2 linked regions of the Homo sapiens genome follow. The protein of the gene in region 2 purifies or fractionates together with the protein of the main gene of each other region. This does not show direct contact. Each region holds a gene or a part of one and is shown on either strand. Other genes may lie near its edges.

Region 1 (3,500 bases), on a different chromosome or scaffold from region 2:
CAACCCCACTGCTCCATTAGGGAAGGCAGCTGTGCCTCTGGCCAAGCAGAGGGGCAGAAGCCCAGCAGTCTGAGCTCTACTCCTGACTCTACCTCCACTGCTAAGCTACCTAACCCCCAAGCCCCAATTCCCTACCTGCAAAAGGGGGATAAGAATACCTGCACCATCTTCTTCACCAGGTTAACGGGGTTAAACAAGAGAAATCCTCCAAAAGCCTTTTCTGGGCTGCAGAATGAGCAGTTGGGTTTCTCTCACGCCTCGCGTTCCGTGTGCCTCCTGGCGTCCTCACCCACTTCTCTGCCTCTGCAGCTTCCAGATGCTGTATGCCGACTGCTACATGAACCGGGAGGAGTTCTGGGAGATGTTTGATGGCTCCTTGTACCACAAGCTGCGAGAGAAGCTGGGTTGCCAGGACGCCTTCCCCGAGGTGTACGACAAGATCTGCAAGGCCGCCAGGCACTGAGCTGGAGCCCGCCTGGAGAGACAGACACGTGTGAGTGGTCAGGCATCTTCCCTTCACTCAAGCTTGGCTGCTTTCCTAGATCCACACTTTCAAAGAGAAACCCCTCCAGAACTCCCACCCTGACAGCCCAACACCACCTTCCTCCTGGCTTCCAGGGGGCAGCCCAGTGGAATGGAAAGAATGTGGGATTTGGAGTCAGACAAGCCTGAGTCCAGTTCCCCGTTTAGAACTCATTAGCTGTGTGACTCTGGGTGAGTCCCTTAACCCCTCTGAGCCCGGGTCTCTTCATTAGTTGAAAGGGATAGTAATACCTACTTGCAGGTTGTTGTCATCTGAGTTGAGCACTGGTCACATTGAAGGTGCTGGGTAAGTGGTAGCTCTTGTTGCTTCCCGTTCAGCGTCACATCTGCAGTGGAGCCTGAAAAGGCTCCACATTAGGTCACCTGTGCACAGCCATGGCTGGAATGATGAAGGGGATACGCTGGAGTTGCCCTGCCATCGCCTCCATCAGCCAGACGAGGTCCTCACAGGAGAAGGACAGCTCTTCCCCACCCTGGGATCTCAGGAGGGCAGCCACGGAGTGGGGAGGCCCCAGATGCGCTGTGCCAAAGCCAGGTCCGAGGCCAAAGTTCTCCCTGCCATCCTTGGTGCCGTCCTGCCCCTTCCTCCTTCATGCCTGGGCCTGCAGGCCCACCCCAGCCACCACTGAGTCCACTCGGAGTGCCCTGTGTTCCTGGAGAAGGCATTCCAGGGTTGAATCTTGTCCCAGCCTCAGCCTGGGACACCTAGGTGGAGAGAGTGGTCTCCGCTCTGAATTGGATCCAGGGGACCTGGGCTCATTCTTCTTGGCTCACCAACCCTGCAGGCCTCATCTTTCCCAAAACCCACTTTGTCTTGGTGGGAGTGGGTCCGCGCTGCTCTGCAGCAGGGGCTGGGGAGTGGACAGCATCAGGTGGGAAAGTGGAGTCCACCCTCATGTTTCTGTAGGATTCTCACCGTGGGGCTGGAAGAAAAGAGCATCGACTTGATTTCTCCAACCACTCATCCCTCTTTTTCTTTCTTCCACCACTCCCCACCCCAGCTGTAGTTAATTTCAGTGCCTTACAAATCCTAAGCTCAGAGAAAGTTCCATTTCCGTTCCAGAGGGAAGGGAACCTCCCTAGGTCCTTCCCTGGCTTGTTATAACGCAAAGCTTGGTTGTTTATGCAACTCTATCTTAAGAACTGCCCAGCCTCAGCTGAAAACCCGAATCTGAGAAGGAATTGCGTCATGTAAGGGAAGCTGGAATTAAGGGAGCTGAGCCAGTCATGGTTGTGGCGTGTGAGTCAGGAGACCTAGGTTTCAGCCCCTCTCTACTGTCAGCGAGCTGTGCAACGTGGGCAAGTCATTGTCCTCTGAGCTGCAGTTTCCTCATCTGTCACATCGCTACAGACAAGACCTCCCTGGAACCCTTCTGATTGTCTTAGACACTGTGGTTGCAAAACCCACGGAAAGCCTCATTTGTGTGGAAAGTCAGAGGAAAAATGATCCAGTGGACACTTGGGGATTATCTGTCATTCAAGATCCTTCCTTCAACCCCAAGGTCAGCTCCCATCTCATTTCCAGAAAGGCTCATACCTGGCTTGCAGGGAAGCATCTGTCTTGTCATTCCAGGTGCCAGAATCCTCTCAGAGTCATTGAAGGGTGTTCACCCATCCCACCCAAGGCTTGGCACACTGCCAGTGTCTTAGCAGGGTCTTGTGAGGGCTGGGGGCATCCAGGCACTCAGAAGGCAAAGGAACCACCCTACCCATTTGGCCTCTGGAGGGGGCAGAAGAAAGAAATAAACCTCATCCTATATTTTACAAAGCATGTGAATTCTGGCATTAGCTCTCATAGGAGACCCATGTGCTTCCTTGCTCAGTGCAAAACTGATGATTCTACTTGCTGTAGATGAATGGTTAACACGAGCTAGTTAAACAGTGCCATTGTTTTGCCAGTGAAGCCTCCAACCCTAAGCCACTGGGACGGTGGCCAGAGATGCCAGCAGCCTCTGTCGCCCTTAGTCATATAACCAAAATCCAGACCTTATCCACAACCCGGGGCTTGGAAAGGAAGGTATTTTGGAATCACACCCTCCGGTTATGTTGCTCCAGTAAAATCTTGCCTGGAAAGAGGCAGTCTTCTTAGCATGGTGAGCTGAGTTCATGGCTTTTTTTTGTAGCCAGTCCTGTCCCTGGCCATCCATGTGATGGTTTTGGATGGAGTTAAACTTGATGCCAGTGGGCAGTGCATGTGGAAAGTATCAGAGTAAGGCTCTCCCCTCCAGAGCCCTGAGTTTCTTGGCTGCATGAAGGTTTTCTTTAGAATCAGAATTGTAGCCAGTTTCTTTGGCCAGAAGGATGAATACTTGGATATTACTGAAAGGGAGGGGTGGAGATGGGTGTGGCAGTGTATGGTGTGTGATTTTTATTTTCTTCTTTGGTCATGGGGGCCAAGGAGAAAGGCATGAATCTTCCCTGTCAGGCTCTTACAGCCACAGGCACTGTGTCTACTGTCTGGAAGACATGTCCCCATGGCTGTGGGGCCGCTGCTTCTGTTTAAATAAAAGTGGCCTGGAAGCTGGCGTTTGTCGTTTCTTGCTTGGGGGACCAAAATGTGGAGTCAGATCTGGGCTCGGGTGCAGGCTGTGCCATTCCCCAACTCAGTTGCTCTCACTGAACCCATGAGCCCATGGCCGAGGGCTAGAAGAACATGCAGGAACTGACAGGTTTATTTCTATCACTGTCAGAGTGTGATTGGAGTAAGTGTTGAAAGGATCCCTCTGTGTGCAGGGTGGCAAGCAGACCAGTGAGAAGGCCACCACTGCAGTCCAGGTGAGACGATGGTGGCTCTGGTTAGGGTGGAGGCCTGGCTTTGTCACTTGGTTGTGACCAATTAATTTTAGCAAGTTAATCCTGTTGAGACTGTTGTCCTCATCTACAAACTAGTGGACCCACTAGCTGTCCATTAAAATGCATTCCTCCATTCTTTGGACACATAGCTAGACTACCTTTCC
Region 2 (5,600 bases):
GTCCCATATCTTATTCTGTGGCAGAGCATATCAAATCCTGTTCCATTACGTATCTCAGAACTACTGGGTTGGCTAATAAATGCTTGCTGTCCGTTTCTCACATCCCTCAACCTGAAGAGATAAGAGACCTACCCTCTTAATCAGTGTATTAGTCCATTTTCATGCTCCTGATAAAGACATTCCTGAGACTGGGTAATTTATAAAGAAAAAGAGGTTTAACAGACTCACAGTTCCACGTGGCTGGGGAGGCCTCACAATTATGGCGGAAGGCGAACAACACATTTTACTTGCCCGCAGACAAGAGAGAATTGAGAGACAAGTGAAAGGGGTTTCCCCTTATAAAAAAACCATCAGATCTTATGAGACTTATTCACTACCACAAGAACAGTATGAGAGAACTGCCCCCATGATTCAATTATCTCCCACCGGGTCCCTCCCAAAACACGTGGAAATTATGGGAGTTACAATTCAAGGTGAGATTTCGGTGGGGACACAGCCAAACCATATCAATCAGCCTCCTCACTCAAGGATTTTAGGGAAATAAGTATAGATCTGAATGTACTTCCTTACCAATCATATCTTAACCTAAATTCCTGTTTATTGGCAGATCAGTTGGGCCTCTACCCAAAGTGTTAGGTCTGTTCTTTCTCCTAGTGTTTGTTTTGCCTCTGCTGAGCTCTGCCCCTCTTTTGTTTGCTGGCCAGTTTCTGGCAGTTCATCTGTTCTGCTGTTGACCATTCTGTACTCCTGGTTTATCTCCTCATGGTTGCCCCGTATGCAGGAGAAACAAAACACTGTAGGATCATAGACAGCTGAGGAGCAGTCATTCTGCCTGGGGCCAGGGAAGGCAACTGAGGAGTTGGCATCTGAGCTGGGGCCTAGAGCAGCCTTCAACAGGTGTGCTGGGAGGGGGAAGGGCCAGGAGGAAGCAGCCCACGCAGAGCGAACGGCATGATGTGCCAAGTGCCTCTCAACAGCACTTGGTGGAAAAATAATTGCCTTTCATGACTCAAACATAGAGTCAATTGCAGTTATGTATTGTTCTAGGGATATATTTTCCCACATCAGGAAGTGAGCGGTTTCATCTGGGGACTGGATTTTTTTTCTTCTTTTTTAATAAATAGGCTTTATTTTCAATTATCATGTCTGTTTTAACCAAATGTTTCAGAAATCATCTATATAATCTCCCACATCATTTTAACTGCACTTTTTCTTGAGAAGGGTGTGATAATGACCCAGATGTACTAAAACAAAAACATGAGTTCATCATTCAAAAAAGTCTTTTCATTATACTTGATTGTCAAATTTTCCCACTGGTTACCAAGTGGTGCTTATTCATCTAAGAGGAACCAGGTGCAAAAAAAGTGAATTACATTAGTAGCCCAATATATAGATTTTAAAATAGCCATGAAGTAATAGATGAAAAGAACCCTAGACATCATTTGGCTTGTATCTTTATATTATGGGCAAGGAATCCAGAGATGGGAATGTTAAGCAAGTTGCCCAAAGTCAGGTGGTCATTCTCCTAAGGTCACTGCCAGCCTTTCCCTCCGCCCCTCCCACCCCATTCTCACACTTTCTCACCCGGATGTAACAGAGAGTGCAACATAGACTACAAAAGCCTTCTTTCATAATGTTGTTTTAAAGTCATCTCAACCGAAATGCTCCCAGAGAGCTATTTGGGCTTCGAATTACATAAAGGATTTGAACTGTTACTCAGATTCTAATGAGCACTTCTTTATTTGGTAGGACATTTTTGTTGAGGATTTTAAAGCAGGGATGACTAATAGGTTCCAAAATTTGGATACTATTAACAAATAGTGTTAACCATACAAATAAACCTTTGCCCTTCTAAACTGTAATGCCAGAATATATTCTTTTCTAGATATTACAATAAGATTTATTTTCTTTGCTTTAGGGTACTTTTGACTTCAGTGACATTGCTGTCTATATATTCAATAAACCTCCTATTGATCTGTTCAAAAGAAACAGGTAAGCTGAGGACGTGTTTGATTTTGTTAAAACCAGGGTGAATTATTTTTATGGTAGCATTGTGGAACAATGATGTTCTCTCTGTACAGCAATTTGATTATTAAAAAGAAAGACTATTTTGACCTAGAGTGATTGGAAGACCTATAGTAGTATTTATCTAGAGAAACAGTTGCAGCAAAATATAAATTAAATTGTCATGGACAATGAGAAAATAATGTTGTCACTTAAAGTGAACCCTCAATTATACCTGTTTTTCTGGTTTAAAATGACTTCATTTTAAAAGCTTGTTTTTCCTTAGGTCTTTATAAATCCAGAACAAAGATCCCATGTTTTTATATTATAACTTCCAAGGTTTTAAAAGTAAACAGACCTGTCATTCTCTTGTGCATATTCCAAGGAGAAAGTGTTACTCCTGAGGCAATGTGGGAGTGAGCAAGCTATGAAGAGACTTCAAGTACTCTGGGCAGTGTAATACCTGAAGTGTTTATTTTCTATTTCTGGGACACTGGATTATGTTTGTAATTCTTTGACTTTTACATTAACTAAAACCACATTGGTCAACTATTATTGTATATACATGACTCCATTTAACTGGAACATTTTATAATAAATTGAGGAGCTAACCATTGTCTAGTTTAAACACCAGTCTTATGAGAGATTAAACAAAGGTTTAATTATAGCCTGTCCCATATTGCTCTCCGTGAACCTTTTGAAAACATGAACTGAACAGTTATAAAGAAATATAAACACTTTTTAAAAAGTGAATGCTTTAGAGTTTCAGTATTTATTGAGATGAGCTAGTCGAACACTTTCAAATTTTGCTACAGACAAATTATGCTTTTGACAGATTAGTCTTCTGCTCTCTTTTGTGAGTTGCATGTATTTGAACTACATTTTATGAATAATTAGGTTTTGTATGTCGTGGCTATTAAAATGTTTCTAAGCTTGTTATTACATTTAGAACGTGGAGGCATTGATGGGATGTTATTAAGATAATTCCTTGTTTGCCTAATCAGTTCAGGTCATTAATTCAAAAGGAATCTTTTTGTTTCAACTATTAGGATCTTTTTAAATCAAATATGTATTTTAATGGTGTACACCAGACCTGAAGAAAAAGATCACAGAAGGAATTTCCCCTTTGTAAGATAGAGGTAGTTAAAAATAAGCCTTATGACCTAATAGGTTAATTGTAATGCTCTGGTAGCCAACTTGAAAAAGGAGAAATGATGGTTGCATCTCACATTTTAAAATGTTAAGAATTTGTTTTGTAATGAGGATACCTTAACCCCTGAAGGCCAAAATGACTATTTGTGTGAGTTTGAGAAAGGCACATAGTAACTTGGGGAACAGTCAATAGAATGACAAAATCTTGACTATTTTAACTTTCTGAACCCTGTCATTTCTTGTGTTCTCAAATTTGATTTTTAAATAGGCTGCATGGTGTATGAAAAGCTGGGGGAACAAGTCTTTGGCACCACAGGGAAGTTCGTAATCTTTGGAGCCACCTCTCTACAGAACACTGGAGGTAAAAAGAACATGCTTTTCTTTACATAACTTGAAACTAATTCTGGTGGATGAGCGGCCACATGAATTTTAACATAATTCAAGCAGTTATCATCCTCATTGCTAAAATGGCACAGGGAAAGTAAAGCAGAGACAGCAGTCACTTATTTAAAGCCACAAATCCTGCTAGAGTAGCTGAAGTTGCCTTTGTGTCTTACTGACAGTTGGTCTAAGAACGGGCTGATAACTTTTTATGTAGCTTGCAACATAAGCCTTCGTATCTTCTTTCTAAAAATGTTCTCATTTTCCTTCAGCAATGCTGAGCTACCTCTTCATCGTAAAAAATGAACTACCCTCTGCCATAAAGTTTCTAATGGGAAAGGAAGAGACATTTTCGTAAGTTATAGACCATTTTTTTATGATATAACTAAAATGTTTTTAATTTAAATATGGGCCAATCAAAATTCTTGCTTGTGAATATTGCAGAAAGTTTTTCCTAGGCTGCGTTTTGTTTGTTTGTTGTTTCAACAATAAATTTCTTTGGGGCTATATAAAGGAAAAAAGCAGGAGAGCCATTTGCATATGCACATTTGAAAAGTAGATTTGTCTGTCATGCTATGAGCGGTAGATACTGCATTTTCCCCAGAGCCTGAAATCTATATCTAGTTTCTGTGAAATAGAACAGATATGCAGTATTTTTAACACAAAAGTGGAACGTGCAACAAAAATTAAGACCCTAGCCTCTTACTTAAAGAAGGGACATAGCATTTTGGGGGCGAAATTTACATGAGCCAACCTCATTAAAGATGTAGATAACCCTGGAAAATGTTGCAGCTACATTTGGCACAATTGTGTTTTGACTCCCTCTTGTTTAACAGTTCTTGTCAGTCTTAGTTTCTCTGTTTTCTTTCAAGGGAGAATCGTAGAAGCCAGAGTCTCTAGTGTTCTCAGGATTCAAGGTCAAATCCAAGGGATCAGGGAGAGAGAAATGTCTACCTGTAGTGACTTGTTTCTCACTGATACTAGCCCAGCAAAACAAAAAGGAGCTTTCTCTTTAAATAATTGATAGGACAAGTTGTAATCTGACAGAATGAAATGTGTGCATTCAGCTTTGAAACCATGTAAATAATTCAAAAGAATGCCACATTTAGCCAATGGGAAAAAAAAAAACCAATATTCCCTCTTCCATTACAGGGGAGTGAAGCTGTAGTATATAAGTAGGGGCTGGGTTAAAGTGTTTGGATAAGACCTGAATAATGATTTTAAAAATTAATGCATATAGTAAAAATTAATAAAAATATATATCATGATATCATGAAATTTTACATTGGAGGGGAAAAAAGTCACTTTCTAAAAAAATATAACCTAATCACTTAAATGCCTTTCAGAGCCTGGTACGTGGATGGCCGCGTTCTGGTGGTGATAGTTACCTTTGGCATAATTCTCCCTCTGTGTCTCTTGAAGAACTTAGGTAAGGACAGATTTTGCTTTTATCATATTCTGCAGTGCCCAAGTGAATCAGAAACTGAATAAAAATGGACAGTGTTGCCCTCTGCTTCCCCTCTGCATGCACTCAAAGATTAAGTACATGATAAATTGCAAGTATTAATCGGTCCCAACTTTAATATGGGATAAAAATAACAGTCAGTATGTGACCTCCTAAACAATCCCTCTACTGAGCTGTGGAGGGGAGAAGGGAGGTCCTGGGGCCAGGACAGACAGGGCTATTTTCAGTAGTACAACTTATATGCTACTCTAAGAAAAGTCCAGAAAATGCAATTCTCTTCATACGAAGTCTTAAATACCCTCATTATTTAGATAAATACATTTTCAAATCTAATATGGAGACAGAAAGCTGCCTAGATTTATACCCACAAGTATTATAAATTTAGAGAGTCTGACCAGCCTCAATTATTTCTCTTCGAAGTGGGAGAGAGAAATCAAAAGTCAGAAATGGCGGATAATCTCCAAGTCATATCCATTTGGCTTTGATCTACTACTTGTTTTTATGCTTGTATTTGGAGACAAGGATGCCTGATGTTAAGGGAATTTCATACATTGAATAATGTGACCAGACTGCCATCTAGTCAAAAACCTATAAAATG

What was found. Proteins that work in one complex are often made in the same cells at the same time.
Region 1: the proteins of SLC38A1 (region 2) and DHCR24 purify together in Homo sapiens (affinity purification with mass spectrometry; one large-scale study listed by BioGRID and IntAct). This does not show direct contact.

What each region holds. Positions count from the first base shown.
Region 1 is NC_000001.11:54,849,196-54,852,695, reverse strand, and holds the end of DHCR24 (delta(24)-sterol reductase precursor), read left to right. Parts: intron 1-309; coding exon 310-463; 3' UTR 464-3,069; downstream 3,070-3,500. UniProt on the Homo sapiens protein: Catalyzes the reduction of the delta-24 double bond of sterol intermediates during cholesterol biosynthesis.
Region 2 is NC_000012.12:46,205,446-46,211,045, reverse strand, and holds part of SLC38A1 (sodium-coupled neutral amino acid symporter 1), read left to right. Parts: intron 1-1,918; coding exon 1,919-1,992; intron 1,993-3,424; coding exon 3,425-3,517; intron 3,518-3,809; coding exon 3,810-3,891; intron 3,892-4,883; coding exon 4,884-4,966; intron 4,967-5,600. UniProt on the Homo sapiens protein: Symporter that cotransports short-chain neutral amino acids and sodium ions from the extraccellular to the intracellular side of the cell membrane. The transport is elctrogenic, pH dependent and driven by the Na(+) electrochemical gradient.